2 separate regions of the Homo sapiens genome follow, and region 1 is linked to region 2. Evidence: fine-mapped expression QTL. A gene starts in region 2. The other region holds a variant in brackets. All regions are shown on one strand. Distances are from middle to middle.

The links.
Region 1: its variant is fine-mapped to the expression of DCTD in whole blood (TOPMed, PIP above 0.99).

The regions. Positions count from the first base shown.
Region 1 is chr4:182,868,526-182,878,261 of GRCh38, forward strand. LOC105377576 (a long non-coding RNA gene) reads right to left here. Exons shown (of 3, transcript XR_007058403.1): 2 at 8,986-9,235; 3 at 2,598-6,353. Among named protein-coding and RNA genes, the nearest start is that of DCTD, 44 kb to the right of the region's middle. The variant G/A (reference allele first, on the strand shown) is at 5,799.
Region 2 is chr4:182,912,698-182,922,433 of GRCh38, forward strand. DCTD (dCMP deaminase) reads right to left here and starts at 4,689. Exons shown (of 6, transcript NM_001921.3): 1 at 4,614-4,689; 2 at 2,764-2,878; 3 at 2,226-2,361. The coding sequence starts at 2,871. RefSeq lists a silencer at 4,321-5,030 and an enhancer at 6,604-6,653.

The DNA of each region.
Region 1 (9,736 bases), 44 kb before region 2:
CCACTGCCCCAACCTATGTCTCTGAGCCAGCATGGATCTCCTTTCTGTTCTCTTGGTGCCGATGAGCTCATTTTTTGACATTTCAGCTTCTTGTGACTTGCCTTTGGTTTGGTTGTTTTACTTTTAATACTTTTGCCAGCAAAGACCTACAGCCTCTCTGAACCTTTTTGGGACTGGCCCTGGTCAGCTGTCCTTTGATCTCCATATTCATACTTTATTTGGAAATAAAGCTTTGTTATCATATGGAATCCAGAGTCTTCACCCTGTCTGTGAAGCAAGTACGGGTTTATTTATTTAGGGCTGGGAGACATCTCTGATTTCATTTGGAAGCTGTCACTTTGCTTTTCCTTTGCCCTATGAGAGACTGGGTTGCTAGAAGGAGTGAAGATGGTCTATTGTGTTCCTTTTCATCATTATCTCATTTTGTTGTTATTTTCTATGTTTCTCTCTTTAAGAAATCATAACAGTTTTATTAAGATATAGCTCACATACCATACAATTCACCTATTTGAAGCATATAATTCAATGCTTTTAATATATTCACAGAATGGTGCAACCATCACCACCATGAATTTTGGAACAGTTTTGTCACCCCAAAAAGAAATTTCATATGCATTAGCATTTACTGCCCATCTCCTCCCAATTTACCCCCTCACACTCCCACCTCCAGGCAGCCACTAACTTATTTCTGAGTCTATGGATTTGCCTATTTGGGACACTTCATATAAATGAAATCATACAACGCATGGTCTTTTGTAACTGGATTCTTTCACTTAGCATGATGTTAAATATACATAGTATCATCTGTATCAGTACTTCATTCTTTGTATTGCCAAACAATATTGTATGGATATAAGTTTTACTTATCAGTTGATGGGCATCTGGGTATCCACCTGCTGGCTGTTACATACAATGCTGCCGTGAACGTTCATGCGCAAGCTTTTGTGTGGCCACATGTTTTCATTTCTCTTGGATATAGACCTAAGACTGGAATTGCTGGGCTATTTCCTATATTTTAAGGAATTATGTTACTCTGGAATCCTGTAGGGGCCTTTTTACCCATGGCTCATTTATTTCTTCTCAGGCCTTTATTAAACAAGTATCTAGAGGTGTTTAGAAGGTTATAAATTAGCCACAGTGACAAATAAACCCCAACATTTCAATGGAGCCACATACTCAAAGTTTGTTTCTCACTCACATCTCAGTCCAATGAGGGTGTTCCTGGTTGGCACGCAGCTTTCCCTCTGTGGTAATTCCGGGTCCAGGGACATCTGCTTCTAGAAAACCCTGGCCCAGCTTTTTCCATTGGTAGGAACGTGGCCCCAAGCCAGTGCAAGTGGGGCTGGGAAACACTGCCTCTGGAGGGGCAGGTGCTCCCAGAAGCAACCTCATGGCATGAGAGAGGAAGCACAGATGTTGGTGGTCAGCTAGCTGACTGCCACTCCAAGGTCCAGGAAGCCAGAGGGCACGGGGTTACAGGGGATTTGAGCCAGGATCCCAGCAAGGTCAGAAGATATTTCTGTCTCCCTCCTATTTCCTCTTTTTCTTAGAAAGGAGTTATCCTTGTGTTCAAGGAAAGGCTGAATATGAGCAGGAACTGTTAAATATGGGAAGCACTGACATTTGGAGAAGACTGCCATAGATTTTTGCATACCTGGTATTTATTTAGATGGTCTTCTGCTGGAAACAGTACGGACCCCTCCCTCTTCTTGGAAGGACTATCCATCAAGGTACCCCCTGCCTCTGGCCACAGGATGGACACTTGACCCACAGTAGGCCAGACTCGCCCCTCTCTCTGGAATTTGAACCTTAAGCAATGTGACACAAAAACAGTCTCATTCTGGGGGTGGGGTCCTGAGAAGATACCATCCATTCCTTTCTGCTTCTTGGATCCCAAATGATGCTGCCTCAGTGTTTCTGGAGCCTGACACCTTAGCTTTGACTCTGTGGGTTGCCCCATGAGCTTACAATAAAGGTCTGGTTAATTAAGCCGGAGTTGGTCATTCCAACATCTCTCTCAACCTTCTACATTCAAGTCCTGAGGATGTCACATCCTGTACAGCTTGAATCTGTCTTCTTTCTAACACAACCTCCAATGCTACAATTCAGGTTCTTTCTATTGTTTGCCTGGACTTCACAAGACCGGCTAACTACTACCTTCATGTCCCCATGGAAACTTTTCTAAAATGCAAATACTGGTTTGAAAAATTACAATACCACCCTTGGAGCAGCGAAATTATGCACCCATATACTGTTGGTGGAGTTATAATTTTTATAACCTTTTGGAAAGGCAATTTGGCCATATGTATCAAGAGCCATTAAAAAAAATACAGCCTTTGACCCAACATTTTCACTCGCAAGAATTTTTTTCCTGAAGAAGCAATTAGACATACATATAAAGGTTTATGTCTGAAATGTTCTCTGAACCATGCATTCATTCAACAAATATGGAATGCCTAGTATATGCCAGGTGCTATTATTATTACTTAAAATCACAAAATACTGGGGGAGTAAAAGAACTGTCCAGTTAGAGGGAATTGATTAAATGAACTTAGTTGTGGTTGGATGATAGAATACGATATAGTTACTAAAGACCATGTTTTTAGGAGAATATTTAATGACATGGAGAAATTCACATTAAGAGAAAAAAGCCAGTTTCAAAAAAGTATATAATCTGAATGTTGAAGGAAGAAATACACATACACCAAAATATTAATAGTGACTAACTCTAGGAATGAGATTTGAGTGATTTTTACTTTTTGCCCACGTTTCCATATATTTCTAACATTTAATAATAAAGAGAAAAATTATTTTTAAAAAATTACTTAAAAAGCAATCAGGAGGCCAGGCGCAGTGGCTCACGCTTGTAATCCCAGCACTTTGGGAGGTTGAGGTGGGTGGATCACGAGGTCAGGAGTTTGAGACCAGCCTGACTAACATGGTGAAACTCCGTCTCTACTAAAAATACAAAAATTAGCCGGGCATGGTGGCATGCACCTGTAATCCCAGCTACTCGGGAAGCTTGAATCCAGGAGGCGGAGGTTGCAGTGAGCCAAGATCGCACCACTGCACTCCAGCCTCGGCGACAGAGTGAGACTCTGTCTCAAAAAAACAAAACAAAACAAAACAAAAAAAAAACGCAATCAAGAAATATGATCATGACTCTACATGAAACCCATCAATAATTCTTCATTTGCAGAATAAAGTATAAACTGCCCCAGCATCAGCTCCCCGACATCTCCCACCTCCCCACCACTTCCCCAGTTCAGCTCGGGAAGCAGCCACGTCCACCAGCATCTCAGATCTTTCATACCTCAGGGCCCTTAGCCACGCGGTAGGCCCCCTTCCTGCGACTGCCCCCTCCGTCTTTGCTCATTCAACAAATATTTATTATTCTGAGCTCTGTTCTGAGCACTAAGGATGCCAGTCAACATAATAGACAAAGTCCCTGGCTTTGCCTCCACTTGTTGCGGATTTCATGTCCCAGCAGAGGAAGACGGATAACAAACATATACACAAGTAGAGATGAGTTGTGTTAGTTTCCTATTTCTGCTATAACACATTACCACAGATCTAGTGGCCTAAAACATCACAAATTCATTCTGTCCCAGTTCTTGACGTCAGAAGCCCAAACAAGTCTTGCAGGGCTGAAATGACGGTGTGAGCAGGGCTGGTTCCCTCTGGAGGCTCCAGGGGAGAATCTGTCTCCTTGACTTTCTCAGGTCTCGGTGGCCCCTTCCTCCATCTGCAAAGCAGCTCCGCAGTGTAGCTCTCTGCCTCTGGCCTCCTGCCTCTCTCTTGTAAGGGCTCTTGTGATTATGTCAGGCCTACCTGAATGATCCAAGATAATTTTCCTGAAATCTCAAGATCCTTAACTTAATCATGTCTGCAAAGTCCATTTTGCCACATAAGGTAATACATTCACATGTTCTAAGGATTGGAACATGGACATACTTTAAGGGCCACGATTCAGCCTACCCCGTGTGGGATGTCATATATGTTGAGTGCTTTGGCACAAGGGAAGTGAGTTTGCTCTTCATGTGAGGGAGTCAGAAAAGGCCTCACTGATAAAGAGACATCAGAGTGTGGAGCCTACCTCCTTTGACACTCCTGTCATTGTGCTTGCAAAAGTATTCATTTTCCTAATCCCAGCACTTTGGGAGGCTGAGGTGGGTGGATCACTTGAGGTCAGGAGTTCAAGACTAGCCTGGCCAACAAAGTGAAACCCTGTCTCTACTAAAAACAATCATGTCACTTGCTTACTAGGATTAATTTGGGAATCCAGTAAGGATACAAATATGGTAAACTTCTAGCGCTTGTCTTATTGCAGGAACTCCATCAATGACAGACAGTTGTGCTGTGATATTGGGGGTGAAGAAGAGTTGATAGAAAAGAAGTTTTGAGAATTTGTTCCTAGTCACTTAAAATGAAGCTGGGGTCAGAGCTGAAGGCCTACTCGATGTCAGCACTACCCTCCCCAGCCTGGGCCCTCGGTGCCTTTTTGGCAGGGACCTGGTCTTCCTCATGTCGTATCTTCCACAGGGCCTAGGACATATTTGCTTAGCTCAGCAAATATGTATTGAGCGCCTGCTGTGTACCAGGAACTGCGCTAGAAGCCAAGGATACATGAAGAAACAAAACAGAAGCGGCCGGACTCTGAGGCCAGTAAGTCTCATGGGGCAAAAAGGGGCCTGTATCTCGGCCGTGTGGCGACGTTATTTGCCTCAAAAAACGCCTAGGCCGGAACCCCTGCATTTCAGGCTCCTGTGGAATTTTGAGAGAAGACAGTACTTTCTTAAGCTGTTCCGTATTTTCCATGCAGGCTTCCATTGACAGAAATCCCACTTTGCATCTGTGAAATTTGCTAACGCACGATTCTGCTCTAGTGCATCGTGAGGCAGTTTATGACATCCGTGCAGCTCTGGTAAAGAGCATGCTTACAACGAGGGGGAAAAGCACCGCCGCAGGAGCAGAGCAGTGGACTCTCAGGGAATTTCCATTTTCTCCTGTCTTAGCGCTGTTAACCATCACGCTTGGCGTTGCCTGACTTCGACATGCGATCACGGCTGCTAGTTCTGAGAGAATGTGAGTTTCCTGGTGAAACTCTCTCTCAACTCTAAGATGGACCTTGACGGAATGCCAAATGTCTCTGGCCTTCCAACATGATAAAGGGCCTCCACGATGCTTTCTGCTTTTCTCCCTCTGCAAAGGTGGCAGTGAGGAGCTTTCTCTGGTGGCTGTTGCATGGACCCTGTCCCCTTGGATGGCTGTGCCTGCAGATTGTCAGGCCGTTGTCTCTGCTTCCCCAGCCCGCAGAAAGGTCACCGACAGGGCTGTGGCACATGCAACTTGGCCCTCACCGTGGAGGAGATGGGGCAGCTTCTGTACAGGTTCTGATCAGGTGGCCACGGCAATGACTGGGGATGCCAGGGACACACTGGACTGTCCCGAGCACGGCGACTTCCCTGGTTTTGCTACCTCTCTTCCACCTGCACTGCACTCCGGGGCTCTGATTTTCACCTTGCTCGCTGACCCCCGCCTCCTGTTTCATGGGTCTTCTTTTCCTGCCATCAGCATCTTTTCTCTGAGACGCCGCTTGGATTTTCTTTCCTGCCTGTTTGTCCTAGACACCGGCAGGAGTTCAAGAATGATGTGACACAGTGATGTGGCCATGGGGTCTGTGCAGACTGACCTGGCCTGTTTCAAAATTTAAATTTTGTTTTAAGTCATAAAAGGGCTACAAAAGCCTTACACTAAATAAGAAAAACTATCCCATCCGGGGGCCTAATCCCTGCCCC[G/A]TTCTGCTCGGCTTGCCTCCCTCATTATACTTGTATAATACAGTATGGTTTCTATCGCGTATTTCCTTCCTGTTTTTACACTTATTCTTGCTTCACTGACTTTATTATCGGCAGAATTTTGCAGCATTTTTTTTACACAGCCATAAATACTCTTCAATTCAACAAATGCATACAAATGGTTTCCATTAGAATTTTAATCTACTCTCAAAATGAAAGAAAAGCTTAATATAAATCTTTTTAAATTACCAGAACATAAATTCACACAGGGACAGTTCCTCCTAGGCCACGCACAAGGGGTCGCATCCTGCCGTCCTCCCTCAGAAATTAATTGAGCTCTCTTGCCGCCGTAAACGAACAGTGCATCTGGAAAGATCGTATCTGTCAAGATTGCAGATTGGTTTCCCTCAGACTTTGTAAAAGTCACAGCTTACAATACGTTCATTATACCGATGAGAATGGCTGTCCTCCCAACTGGAAAGAAATAGGTGTTTTGTTCTGTTGGACCAAGATTTACAGAAAGCAATTTTCCTCCATGCAGGAGATATGACAAACCTGCTGGAAAAAAATGTCATTTCACAACTTCTTTCATTTCATCACCTTTTTTTACTGCTAGATGTAGATTCTCTCCCCTGTGCGAACGGGCTGTAGTGACATTTAATGGCTAAGTGAGGGAGTCACCAATGAGTGGAGGCACCTTTCTGAGGGGCTAAGGTAAGAGGGTTTCCATGCCTCTCCCTCTCCCCCTATGTCCGGGGCTGTCTGGAAGCGTCCCAGCATCTGCCGGAGTGAGGGAGGGACGCGGTGAGTCCCTTGAGCCCCTCAGCCAACTTGAACTTAGGAACTCATGTGAATCTTGTGTCTCTCTCTTGTAAGCAGCTGAAGTTGCCTCAGTTTTCCTGTTGTTTGCTGAGCCCAAGAACCCCAGCGTGCCCACTCTGTCCTTGGCTGACAGCAGCACGCTGTCTCAGGAGGACGGCTGAAGGGCAGAGTTTGGGCTTAGATGTTTTTTTTCCATTTCCTCATGTCATAACCTAATGCTGTTCTAGCAGAGCTTCTGCATATTAAATTGCCTTTTAGCCACTGGGAAGGGGGTGGCGTGATCTATGGAGAAAAGGACCCTCATGTAAATGTATGATGGTGACACAACCCCACAGAGGAGAAAGGGCAAGACTAACCCGGAGACCAGGGGTCAGCAAACCCCGGGAAACGTCACTCTTTACAGCCACTTCTCTCTCCTTGAGTCAAGAGCCACTGTTCCGAGCTTTCCGTCACAGCAGCTCATGGCAGCCCTATCACCGCCTGTTCTCTGGGCTGGGGCTGGTGAGAAGGCCGAGGAAGTCTGAGGCAGGGTGTGTGGGAGGGCTTTTGGTTCCAAGAGCTTCTCTGAGCTCTGTGTACCAGCGAGAAAGCAGGCAGCGAAGGCAAGATCAAACCTTGCTCCTGCCAAGCGGGAGAGGCTGGCTTCGGGTGGTAATTTGTGCTGCAGGTGAGGCTCCCTACCTGGGCGGCCACTTAGCTGCACCAGGCAGGGAGGGCAGGGCCACCAGAAGGCCTGGTGGGCATTGTTTCCATGGGCTGGAAAGATTTTTGCAAATCTTTCTGCAAATGATGATCTCTATCCACATAAAGTGGCATAATAGCCTCTTTGCTTTACCGAGTGCTGCTGGCTGTTCAAGTGCTTATTTCTTGATTCTTGGCCCATTTGCTTTCCATTAGCAGTAATCCCAAGCCTGCAAAACTCCAATTACTAAGTGATAATAGAAATGCAGCTCTGCCTCGGAGTCTCTGGAGCTCAGGGTCCAGAGTGGGCCAGGGTTCCACGCACAGCCACATTGCAATCATATTTATGACATGTGAGCAAGACATCTGGCCGGTCCCTGGGTTAAAGACCCAGGGGAGCCGAGTGGGCATTCTCAGGGGGTGTCTGCACCGCAGATCCCAGGGAGCTGGTGGAAACAGGACAGGTGTTCCCAAGACAGTCCAGGATGCTCAGACAGCGTAGGAGGAATGGAGGCTACAATGGACGGAGCTGAAGGAATGTGTGCTGCTCCTTTGAATTCTGGGGTTGGAGGAAAGGTGTGCTAGGGACTGAGCTGTGTCCCTCTCCCAAATTCATATGTCAAAACTTTAACCCTCCATGTGAGGGTTTTTGGAGGTAGGGCCTTTATAGGTAATTAGGTTTGGATGCAGTCATGAGGGTATCGCCCTTACGATGGGATTAGTAGCTTTCTAAGAGACCAGAGCCGTTGCTCCCGGCCCCACTCCCTGCCAGGTGAGCCCACAGTGAGAAGGCGGCCGTCCACAAGCCAGGAAGAGAGCCCTCACCAGAACCCGGCCATGCCAGCACCTGATCTCAGACTTCCCAGCCTCCAGAACAGTGAGAAGTAAAGGCTTATTGTTTAAGCCGCCCAGTCCCTTGTATTTAGTTATGGGCAGCTGAGCAGACTGCAACAGGATGACAGGAGAGAGAATGATTGTAGATTCAGAGTGAGGTGGGGCTCAAAGTCAGAACTTCAGAACTGAGCCCAAAATGATCAGAAAATTCACCCCCTAGGTGGCTGCTGGTGAAAATTCACTACTCTAGGGGCCAGGGCAGCTGTTTTGTATGTGTGTGTGTGTGGTAAGAAAACAAAAAAACAAAACAAAACAAAAACAACCACACACATAATAAGGCCAGGCACGGTGGCTCACGTCTGCAATCCCAGCACTTTGAGAGGCCGAGGCGGGTGGATCACTTGAGGTCAGGATTTCCAGACCAGCCTGGCCAACATGATGAAACCCTGTCTCTACTAAAAATACAATTAGCCGGACATGTGGCGTGAGGCTGTAGTCCCAGCTACTCAGGAGGCTGAGGCAGGAGAATGGCTTGAACCTAGGAGGTGGAGGCTGCAGTGAGCTGAGATCGTGCCATTGCACTCCAGCCTGGGCGACAGAGAGAGATTCCATCTCAAAAAAACAAAACAAAACAAAACAAAAAAAACACATAACATAAAATTTACCATCTTAACCATTTCTAAGTGTACAGTTAAGCAGTGTTAACTATATGCACACTGCTTTGCAATCAACCTCCGGAACTTTTCATCTCACAAAACTGAAAGTCTGTATCTGTTAAACAACTCCCATTTTCCCCTCTCCCAGGCCCCGCACCCACCATCCTACTTTCTGTCTCTATGTATTTGACACTCACATCATCTCGCGCAGGTGGGATCATCTGGTATTTGTCCTTTTGTGACTGTCTCCTTTCACTTAGCTCACTGTCCAAAGTTCGTCCATGCAGTAGCATGTGTTGGATGGACTTTCCTTCCTTTTCAAGGCTGAGTAAGATTCCACTGTGTGTTTACATTTTCTTTATCCATTCATCCACCGAGGAACACCTGGGCGACGTCCCCCTCCTGGCTGCTGTGAATAATGCTGCTCTGAGCATGAGTGTGGAGCGTCTGTTTACAAAGGAGATGGTCAGACAGTACAACAGCACTCAGGTCAGTCCAGCTGCCCCCTCATCCCACCAGCTCCTTCCCAAAAGATTGACCACTGGACTTTTTCTCATAGGAAGCACTGCCCTCCGCACCAAGCTCCCTTCACATCCTGATCAGCGCTGCTCTCGGCTGCTGCTTCTTGCTTCAAGCCCCCAGGAATATCTCCCTTTTTTTTAATTCCATTTCTCTCTCAACCTTAAAACTATCCACCACCCTTAGTCTGTTCCATTATCAAGCCCTTCTGCTGACTTTCACCAAGCACTGTCATTTCTTCTTCCACATTTTCTTTCAAATTCTCCAAGATCCTCTTTTAAATATACTAGCAAGGCAGACTCGCCTGACTTTTCCCTAGTTCACACCTAGGGACAAACAGATCCAAAAAAGTCAATAGAATTTGTAGGGGATCCTGATAAGGACTTGGCTGATTTTTGTTGCCTGGTTTAGACCGCTGCAGTTTTGTGC
Region 2 (9,736 bases):
ACACGGGAAGTCAGGAGAGCTGGGAAGTCTGGGGTGTGGGGCAGGTGCTGCAAATGTACTGCATGGCCCTTGGCTTCCAGGTCACTGCTTAAAGATCTGCTGGGGGCTCTGGGTGACTGAAGAAGGCACAGGCCCCATTGGGAGGCCCACTCAGTGCTCACCCAGGACCCCTCCGCACTGTCCAACCACGGGTATCTTTTGCACCAGCTTGAGTATGACGGACCGCCATCCCCCCAGAATTCCTCCATATCAAAGTCCAGCCCCAGGGCCAATATTTCACTGCCCAGACTCGGTGACATACTGACTGTGGCCGTCACACAGTTCAATGCAGACCTTTAACATATCGACCCTCCACTTTCACCATTTTTATAGGGGACTTTGAACCGCACTGTGAAAAATTATCTTTGCATGGACTTAAAAACAACTAATCACTTCCCTTCTTTCTTACCATCAAAAGCTTATAGAATCAAAATCAGGGTGACAGTTTCTGAGTCCGCGCATTTTTCTAATTAGTCATCCACTACCACCGGCTCTGAAGCTGTGCTGAGAAGACAGTCTTACCCTCCCCCAACTCCATCCTCTCTTCCCACTCCGACGAGGGAGGGTGAGGTTAAATCAAGGATCTGAGGATTCGGTCCCCTTCATCCCTAAACTACTTTTCACATCCTGGAAACCCAGACTGCTTTGCAGTCCTCAGTTCCTCCTCTCTCTCCAGGTACCTCTTAACTTTTTCTTTCAAACATGGAGAAGTTGCCCCTAGGCAATTTAGAAAGAAATTTATGGGGCTTATTTAACATGATTGAGGTCCAGGAACATTAGTAAAAATATATAAATTAGACTAAATGTTGACTTGGATTCTTCATGAGAAAAACCCAGAAGAAAACCTACCAGGAGAGTCAACAAAGAAGAAAGGTCGTACATCACGCCTTGGCCTGAAGACACAATCTTTCCCATTTGGATGGCCTTACTCTCCCTTCACTTCCAACAGCGCCAGTCTGTTCATTCTCAGACATAAAATACAGGGCCTAACCTTACAAAAATCAGCAACCTGCATACCCAGCATGATTTGCCTCTTTTCCAGCATTGCTTGCATATTCTCCAAGGAATGCAAGGAAAAGTAAAGCTATGGCTGGACCCTCCCAGGCAATCTCTGAAGGAATTTTCCCTGGGGCTTAGACAGGCAACAAACTCTAAGAAGCAGCCTTCCCTAATTTCAAGGGGAAAATCCAGAGACAGTCAAGCCAAAGGTTTACAGTTCTACACTTCTAGCTTTTTCTTTTCTTTGTTTTTGTTTTGTTTTTTGTTTGTTTGTTTTTGTTTTGTTTTTTGAGACAGAGTCTTGCTCTGTCACCCAGGCTGGAGTGCAGTGGCGCAGTCTTGGCTCACTACAACCTCCACCTCCTGAGTTCAAGCGATTCTCCTTCCTCAGCCTCCCGAGTAGCTGAGATTACAGGCACCTGCCACCACGCACAGCTAATTTTTGTATTTTTAGTAGAGATGGGGTTTCACCATGTTGGCTAGGCTGGTCTCGAACTCCTGACCTCAGGTGATCTGCCCGTCTCCACCTCCCAAAGTGTTGGGATTACAGGCGTGAGCCATCGTGCCCAGCCTCACTTCTGGCTTTTGGTCTGACCACAGCCTACTGTGAAATTGCAGCATCCCCTGTAACTGGAGGAAGCAACTGGATCCTCCATCTCCTGATGTCTAGTTCACAGTTTGATTCCTGCTTGCCAGCAATGAGCTTGAGCCAGATGTTCTCATCAGGCACATGGGCTGAATGAAGCCTGCTTCTCATCAGACCAAAGCCCGAGCCAGCCCCTGGTTAGCCGACCCTGCTTCCAAGTAGTAAAAAAAGGAACCCACAGAGACACCATGCACATCCCTCAGCTATCTCTGCAAGGGGCTGTGACCCTCTGCAGAGACGCCGACTATCAGTGCACTGGTGTGGTGCAGGCCAGCAGGTTGCCAGTGAAGCCTGCCAGGCTCAGCACAGGCAGCAGAGCCCTGGATCTCAGGGCCAGCCTGTGTGGCCACTACCATGCTTCTCTCCGTGGCTCTCTTTGGAACTTAAGAGACAAGGCCAGGAAATTGGGGTAGTTCAGTAGGATACTTTTCTTTCCAGTTGTTGATGACAAAAGGGAGATGATGCCTTCTGACCAACTTTCTTAATTAGGCACTCACCAGGCTATGTCACTAAGCAGAATGGGACATAAAACTTGCCCTACCGTACGGGTATTTGGTGTCCAGCTTATTCTCTGCTGTCCTTCTCCAAGGCAACACGTCATCACTGCACCCATTTGGCATCCCATTGTACCCAATCCCGACAATCTTGTTTTCTGAATTCACGATGCAGGCGCCGACCTAGAAGGAAACATGCCCAAAGGCTTGGTGCCTGCAACTGGCTGGTCTGCCGCTGTGGAAGCAGGGAATAAAACCAGGGGGACTGCAGAACTCAAAACAGACGCATAGCTGCTGCAGGTGCTGAGAGCTGTCGGTCTCCTTGCCTGGTTTTTTGTGGCAGCACCCACAAGCCAAGGAAAGTGCACCCCCAGTCCCAGAAGGGGCACAAGAGGCAGTTAACAATGGCATGTGACAATTTTCTGTCTCACAGGAAGAACTAAGCTTGTAGAAACGCAGCACAAAAGGCAGACCGACCCTGCACTTTTAAGTTGACAGGCGTCCACTGAGTCTCCCCTTTCTGCTCATGTGCAGTAATCTCTTTGCCTGTGAGTATCTAAGCATTCTCCCGTGAAATTCATTTACCTGGGAATTTGGATCTTTGCTTCTCTGTGCTGATAAGAAGGCCACAGCCATAAAATACTCTGGCCATTCCAAATAGTCGTCCCGTTTCTTGCAGGAAACTTCACTCATGTTGGGTCTAGAAGAAAAACATGACAAAACAGAAGTTGAGAGAAGCATTTTAGTAAGTCTGTTTTCCAGTTCAACCCAACCACACTGAACCTTTAAATCTCTAAACATGGGCAACTTCAGCTACATTTATCAATCAGAAATCACAGCACATGGGCCCTAAACAGTCTCTGGTCTTAAGTAAAAACTTAAGAAATTTCCTATTTCAGAAGTTTGAATTTGAAACCTATAGCTTCACGTTCCCAAATATTTCATCTATTTACTGCTTTCTCATAGGATTTTTTATGCCAGCCTACAAATTGTTGTGTCCTTTACCTGTCTCCCTTACAAAGCGGAGTCAGCACAGGAGGAGGGTGGAAAAAAGAAATATTTATTGATCATCTATAGATTCCAGACATTGTTAAAGTTTATACACATCATGTCACTCAAGCCTTACTCCTAGCTAAGGTAGACAGTGCCATCCCATCTTACACAGACTCAGAGAACTTAGGTAACTTAACCTAAACCACACAGGATTATCATCCATGCCAGACGGATTCAAAGAAAACATCTGAAGCCTTCCCAACTCTGATATTAACCAGATAATTTTTCCCTTCCCTTTCTCCTCAATAATCCAGATGGGACAGAAGTTATCAACTCCGAGTAATGAATTACATGAGAAGAAACTATGAAAAACGTCAAGTGCTACTCCTAAAGCAAGGTTTTTGGAACGTAGTTTACCAGGGGCAAGCAGAGACTGTCTACGGCAGGGAGAGCCCACGAAGGGGGTCCTAGGACTTCAGGGGAGTGGTCGCTTTCAAAAGGAATGAAACAAGGGCAAGGAAGGAAGACAACACAAAAACGGGGTGGGTACCACGGAGAAATCTTGAGAAAGGCGAGGAATGTGGTCTAAAGGAAGGCAAGCATCTCCCAAAACTTCTGCTTCAGGCTCCACACTTTATTTAGGCATCTGCTACAGTGCAGGGCGGCAGTGCCTAAGACAAGGATGCAGTGGAGAGTGGGTGCTGGGAACCACGGTCACCCACTGATTACGCTGCCCCACATCTGAGAGGCCTGGCAACCCCCCTAACAGGAAAAGACAGGTGCTGAATCAGCCTGGTTTCCCACCTGGCTTTAGGGCCAGCATCCATCATCGCTGTGGGGTGCTGGAGAAGTACCTACTAAATAGGAGGGAGGGGGAGCCATGGGGGGCGAGGGAAGAGCAGGAGAGGGAAGGGTCCTGTTAATCCCCTGGGCGCCTTCTCCTGGTGTGGCTGAACGCCCACTAGAGCCCTGTGAGGACTGAGGCCCAGCTGTAGAAACAGAGAGAACTGGAGCTCGAATACAACGATTCAGGAAGACACATCCGGTCACCGTCCCAGGCACACCCCACGCCGCTCGCAACCCCGTCAGCTCTGATCCAGGGCCTACACCCGGCATTCCCAACCCACACACGGGCGCAGGAAGGGATGTGGTGTTCAGACGCCCAGCACCACCTCCCGGGGCACTCCAAGGGGCCCGGCCTCGCACAGGCCGCGGCGCCCGCCGAGAAATCGACCCTGGAGTGACTGCGGGGACCCCGAGCGCCCCCACCCCGCCCGCATTCTCCGATCTAAAGGCTGAGCGCGGCCGAGGCGCCCCCAGCGTCCGCGGCCCCAGGCCCCCGCCCGGCAGCCAGCGCCCCGCGCCACGCGCTCGGGACGGTGCCACGCGGCGGTGGCTAGGGGCGCGCGGGCCGCGTACCCGCACGGCTGGCCCCCGCCCACCATCCGGTGCCGGCTCCGCGCGCAGGCCGGTGCTCGTCCCCGCCGCCGCCGTGCTCAGGGAAGGAAGTCGGGGGAGGAGGCGGGGCCGCCGCGGGGCCGGAAGGGGGCAGCGGCCCGGGCGCCGCGCGTTCGCAGGACGGCGGCTGGCCCCGGGGGCCCGAAGCCCTGAGGGGAGGGAGGGAGGGACGGCGGGGGCGGGTCGCACGCCGCAAAGGCGCTGCTCCGCGTCGCCGTACGCCTCCCGGTCCCCGTGACGCAGCCCGCGGTCCGGCCGGCGGTGTTCAGAGCCCGAGCACAAACTACTTCCCGGGTGCCAGACCGCCCCGAGGTCGCCCCGCTGCCCGGGTCACGCGTGGCGCTGGGTGGCCGCGAGTTGGGCGCTCCCGGGCCTGACTGCACGACCGTCGGGGGCTGCTTGGTTTGGTGGTGGTGGCGGTGGTGAGGTTTTCCCCACCATCCGTGTTCCATCAACTGCTTAGAGACACGGCTATGGAGATTGTGATTAAAAGACGACCCCAAGAATCTAGTGCCGTGAAACTGGCGGGGCGGGAGGTGGGGAGACCTGGTTTGGGTCTCTGGAGTGAGCCCGCTGTGTCGCAGCGTCCCCGTGGGGACCCTTGGCCGGTGGCTGGGTCACAGTTTCACACACTGGATGGGGCAGGGAACTGGGTCCGGCGGGGGCGCTGTGCCTCGAGGCTCAGTGCCTCGAAGCTAGATTTGCATTTGGCTGCGCCTGACAGGCTTTCAGTTTCTGCTCAAATTGTGCGGAAGGGCCTGAGGTGTTTGCTAAAGCCTGCCGCGCCCTGCTCGACCCGTATCACCGCACAGGCACCCCACCTGCATGTTACCTCCTGGTAATGCTCGCCCACTTATATAGTGCACATTTTGTTGCAGTTGTTTCAAAGATGAGAAAAACAGGGCAATAGGAAAGACCATCAGTGACATTTCTGGAGTCGTATGCCCCAAGCAACTTAATCTGGTTTTCATGAACTTCGTTACCCTGTGCAGACGTCTAGCCCCTTACAGTGGTTCTAGCACAGAGAATGACAGAAGAACCCCTTTCTGTTTCATTCATGGGACTTGAGGGGACTGTCAGCACTCCATAAATAACAGCTACTGTAATAATCGCCAGTTCTGATCTGCACATCCCAGATTTGAACTGCTATTCCAAACAAAAGCTTGTTAACTATATTAATTTAGCCTAACGGAGGAAGAATGATGAGAGTAAACAGTTGGTTCTATCTAATTTCTCACTACAGCAGACACATCATTCTTCATCTCATGGTCCAGCTTGTAGATTCAATAATTAAATTATGTACTGCTCTTGGTGGATGCCGGGAAAGCAAAAGGGAGAAATACTTCATCGTTAACTATAGATTTTTTTTTTTTTTTTTTTGCCTTGATAAGACTCAGGCTTGAAAGAGCCACATAGATTAAGATGATGATTTTTAATTTCAAGTTGACTTTACATGGCTGTCTTGTTGCCGCTAAAATGTGTCATATATCCCGAGCCCCTGGTTTCCCTCCTCCTCCCAAATCCACCGCTTGGTCTTTGTCACACTCATCTACAGTCTTTGGGTCTTCATAGATCCATTTCTCTTCTTACCAACCTACAACCCATACATCACCAATTGCTGCTGCTCCTTCAACCACAACATCATTAAGCTTTCTTCCTTCCTCTGCTCGGTAAAGACTGTCATACATAATTTAGTTACTTCTCATCACTCTCCATTTTGGTCAACTCACACACTCCCCTCTGCCATAAATTCAAGCTCCTGCTTGCTGAAAACACATTACCCTGAATGTTCCCGCATTTCACTGAAAGTCCCTCATCTTAAAGATGACATCATTCATAATACAGGAAACCCTCCTGGTTCAGAGTTTCACAACTTGAGGTTTCAAATATTGTACACCAATAGTGAAGCCACGCGGCCAAAGGGGGGAGAAATATATTCCTTGGTATGTCTTTCTCATTAACACCTTGTAACTCCAAGTGTGACTGTAGGTGTTAAATCTCTCTTGCTAATACCTTGTATTTGGGCTTATAATTGAGGATCTTTCTCCACCTACTACAGATACAGAGGTTAGGTATGTGTTCAGCCCTATCTAGATTGGCCTTCCTTGAGGGCCTCACACAGGTTGAACCCAATCAGCACATTCCTAAGGACTACTGTCTTGGCCCTTTTGTTTATGGGGTTTCGTGCTATCTATGTCTAGTCTAGAGCATAACCTGGAATATATTAATATTTCAGTGTGCCTTAGGTAGGGGATCCCGATTAAAAACAGAAGTCAAGGTAAGACTCTTCCAGGGCTGCCTCAGAAGAGGGGTTGATGGCATTTGCAAATGTCTGCCGTACCGAGATACTACCTGCCCCTCCTTCCACCTCCTCTGCCTGCCAAGGTAAGGATGAGACCTGTGACTGGGGAAACAGAGGCAAGGAGTCAGGAAGGTGGCCAATCTGTCCATCAAGTTTGTCATGAGAGAAAGAGCACCGGCCTTGGAGTCAGACCAGACTTTGAACCCTACTCCCACTTCTTACAACCCGAGTAACCTTGAGAAGCTACTTCCATTCTTGGAGTCTCTGTAAAATCAACAATATTCATTTTTTATTAATTCCCTGCTATGTGCTAAGTGCTGTAAATACCATGATGGATACTATAAGCCAGTTCTTGCCCTCACATTCCCCTCTCCGCAAATAAACACAGAAAAAAATGAACCTTATTGCTGGCCCAGTGAACATAGTAAATGTTGTTATAAACTGCCTGTTGTTCTTAATTTGGTGGTTGTCAGTCAGGACCAAAAACTCCTTTGCATAACAACTGCACTTAGAGGCAAAGTGCCACTTTGACTGGTTTTCAAAGGAATAATTGTTTATGTTTCCATGCTAAAGTGCAAACTAGAGAAAACTCTTTTTAAATCTTAAGTAAGGGATGACTGTAAGTCTGCTAAACCACAAAAAAGTCACAATGAAAATTCTAGAAAAAAATAAATATGTGGTCTTATCAATACAGTACAGGTTGAGCATCCCTAACCTGAAAATTCAAAATCCAAAATGCTCTAAGATCTGAAACTTTTTGAGTGCTGACACTCCCACAAGTGGGAAATTCACACCTGACCTCATGTGATAGGTGCACAAAATTATGAAAAATATCCTGTCAAACTACTTCCAGGCTATGTATGTAAGGTGTATATTAAACATAAATATATATTGTGTTTAGATTTGGGTCCCATCCCCAGGACACCTCATTACATATATGCACATATTCCCAAATCTGAAAAAATCCAAAACCTGAAACACTTCTGGTCCTAAGCATTTTGGAGAAGGGATATTCAACCTGTATATACATTTTCGTATGTATGTTAGAGCATGAGGTCAGTTGTTTGTGTTCCATGAAGGGCATACAGACTGCAAATTGACATGACAGAGCACTCCTATCAGAAAAAAAATCAGGATCCCTAAACAGCGTTTTTGTTATGAGTTGAAGCCACCAATTACTTTGTCATTATACATCTTCAAAATTACAATGAAGGGCCGGGTTTGTTGTAATGAACTCACTCCTGTAATCCCAGCAAAGTGGCAGGCCAAGGTGGGAGGATCGCTTGAGCCCAGGAATTTGAGACCAGCCTGGGCTATGCAAGACCCAGTCTCTGCAAAAAAAAAAAAAAAAAAAAGTTTTAAATGAGCCAAGCATGGTGGTGCATGCCTGTAGTCCCAGCTGCTCAGGAGGCTGAGGAGGGAAGATTGCTCGAGCCTAGAAGGTTGAGGCTGTAGTGAGCTGTGACTGCACCACTGCACTCCAGCTTGAGTGACAGAGGGAGACCCCATCTCAAAAAAAAAAAAATCTTTTTTTTCAATGAAGATCAATAAGGAAATGTTAACATGGCATATGCACAAAGCTGGGTGTTTTGCCGTTTTTTATTAATAAATATTTGTTGACTAAATAAATGAGTTAATAGAAAATCATTGTTCTATGCCAAATTGTTTGGAGCATCTAACTCATAGAGAGAAGTCTTTGTCTGTGAACTCTGGTTCTACTTCCCTATCCGCCTCCTTTTTCTCCTTGCAATTCATAGACCTGGAGAGACATTTGATAAGTGAGACATTGGGGCTGGTGGGTCAGGGAAACAAGAGTGAACAGTATCATTTTAAGGAGGCATGGATCTCAGTCCTAGGATTTGGGGCTTGGCCTGAAAATGACCATCTCTCGTACAGCAGAGCTGAAGGCGGAGGGGAAGGCTGTCTCCTCTTTCCTGGTGTGATGCCTCTCCCCATGACTTCTTTGCTTCTACAGAGCTGAACTTGTAGCCTCTTTCATACACAACTGGTTGAAGTGGATGGAAATTACATGTCTTATTGCTTCTTAAAAGAAAAAAAAACATATTAAATCTAAAAGAAATGGGCAATTTTCTCGTACCACTTTCTATTTCTGTGTAAGTTACCAAGTGCCAATCATTCTTACTTTTTAAAATTCACATTTGTCAAGCAGCATGTAAGCTTTCAGTGTTGTACAAGAAAAGATAATGCTTCATGTGGAACAGTCACTTACGCTATTCTGTGAAAGTGCCTAACCTGAAGAGAATGTATCAGATTGTTGGCTTTATAGAAATGTTAATGATTTCATTAAATTACACCCTCTACGCTGGGGTCACCAAGGAACCTCCTAAAGGGTAATCAACAAGGTATTACGGTTCTGGATATAGAATTCTTTATTGACATCAGAGTCACCACTCATTTTGCAGTGTGTATTTTAACTGGTGTAGCAAGGTGAATGCCTAAGAACCATTGTAAATGAAAGTCCCTGTGAAATTGTAGTTGGGAGCTAATGGCCATCATAACCTGCCTGACGTGTTGCGCCTTCCCTCAGCTAACTGGAAAGCTCACTGGGTGTGAACCTCTGAAAGGAGAAGGCGCGAATCAAATTAACATTTTAGTATTGTGGCACACCATGTATGTGTATATTGAAGATAACACCTGTGATCCTACCACAACAACAATCTGTTGTTAATGCCATGAGGGAAAAAGTCATCTTCCACAGTCAGGAGCAAACAAAATAAGGGAGGAACCCTATCCTATGTGAATGACTGTTGACACTGTTCACAGTAAGCAATTCAAAGCTTTGAT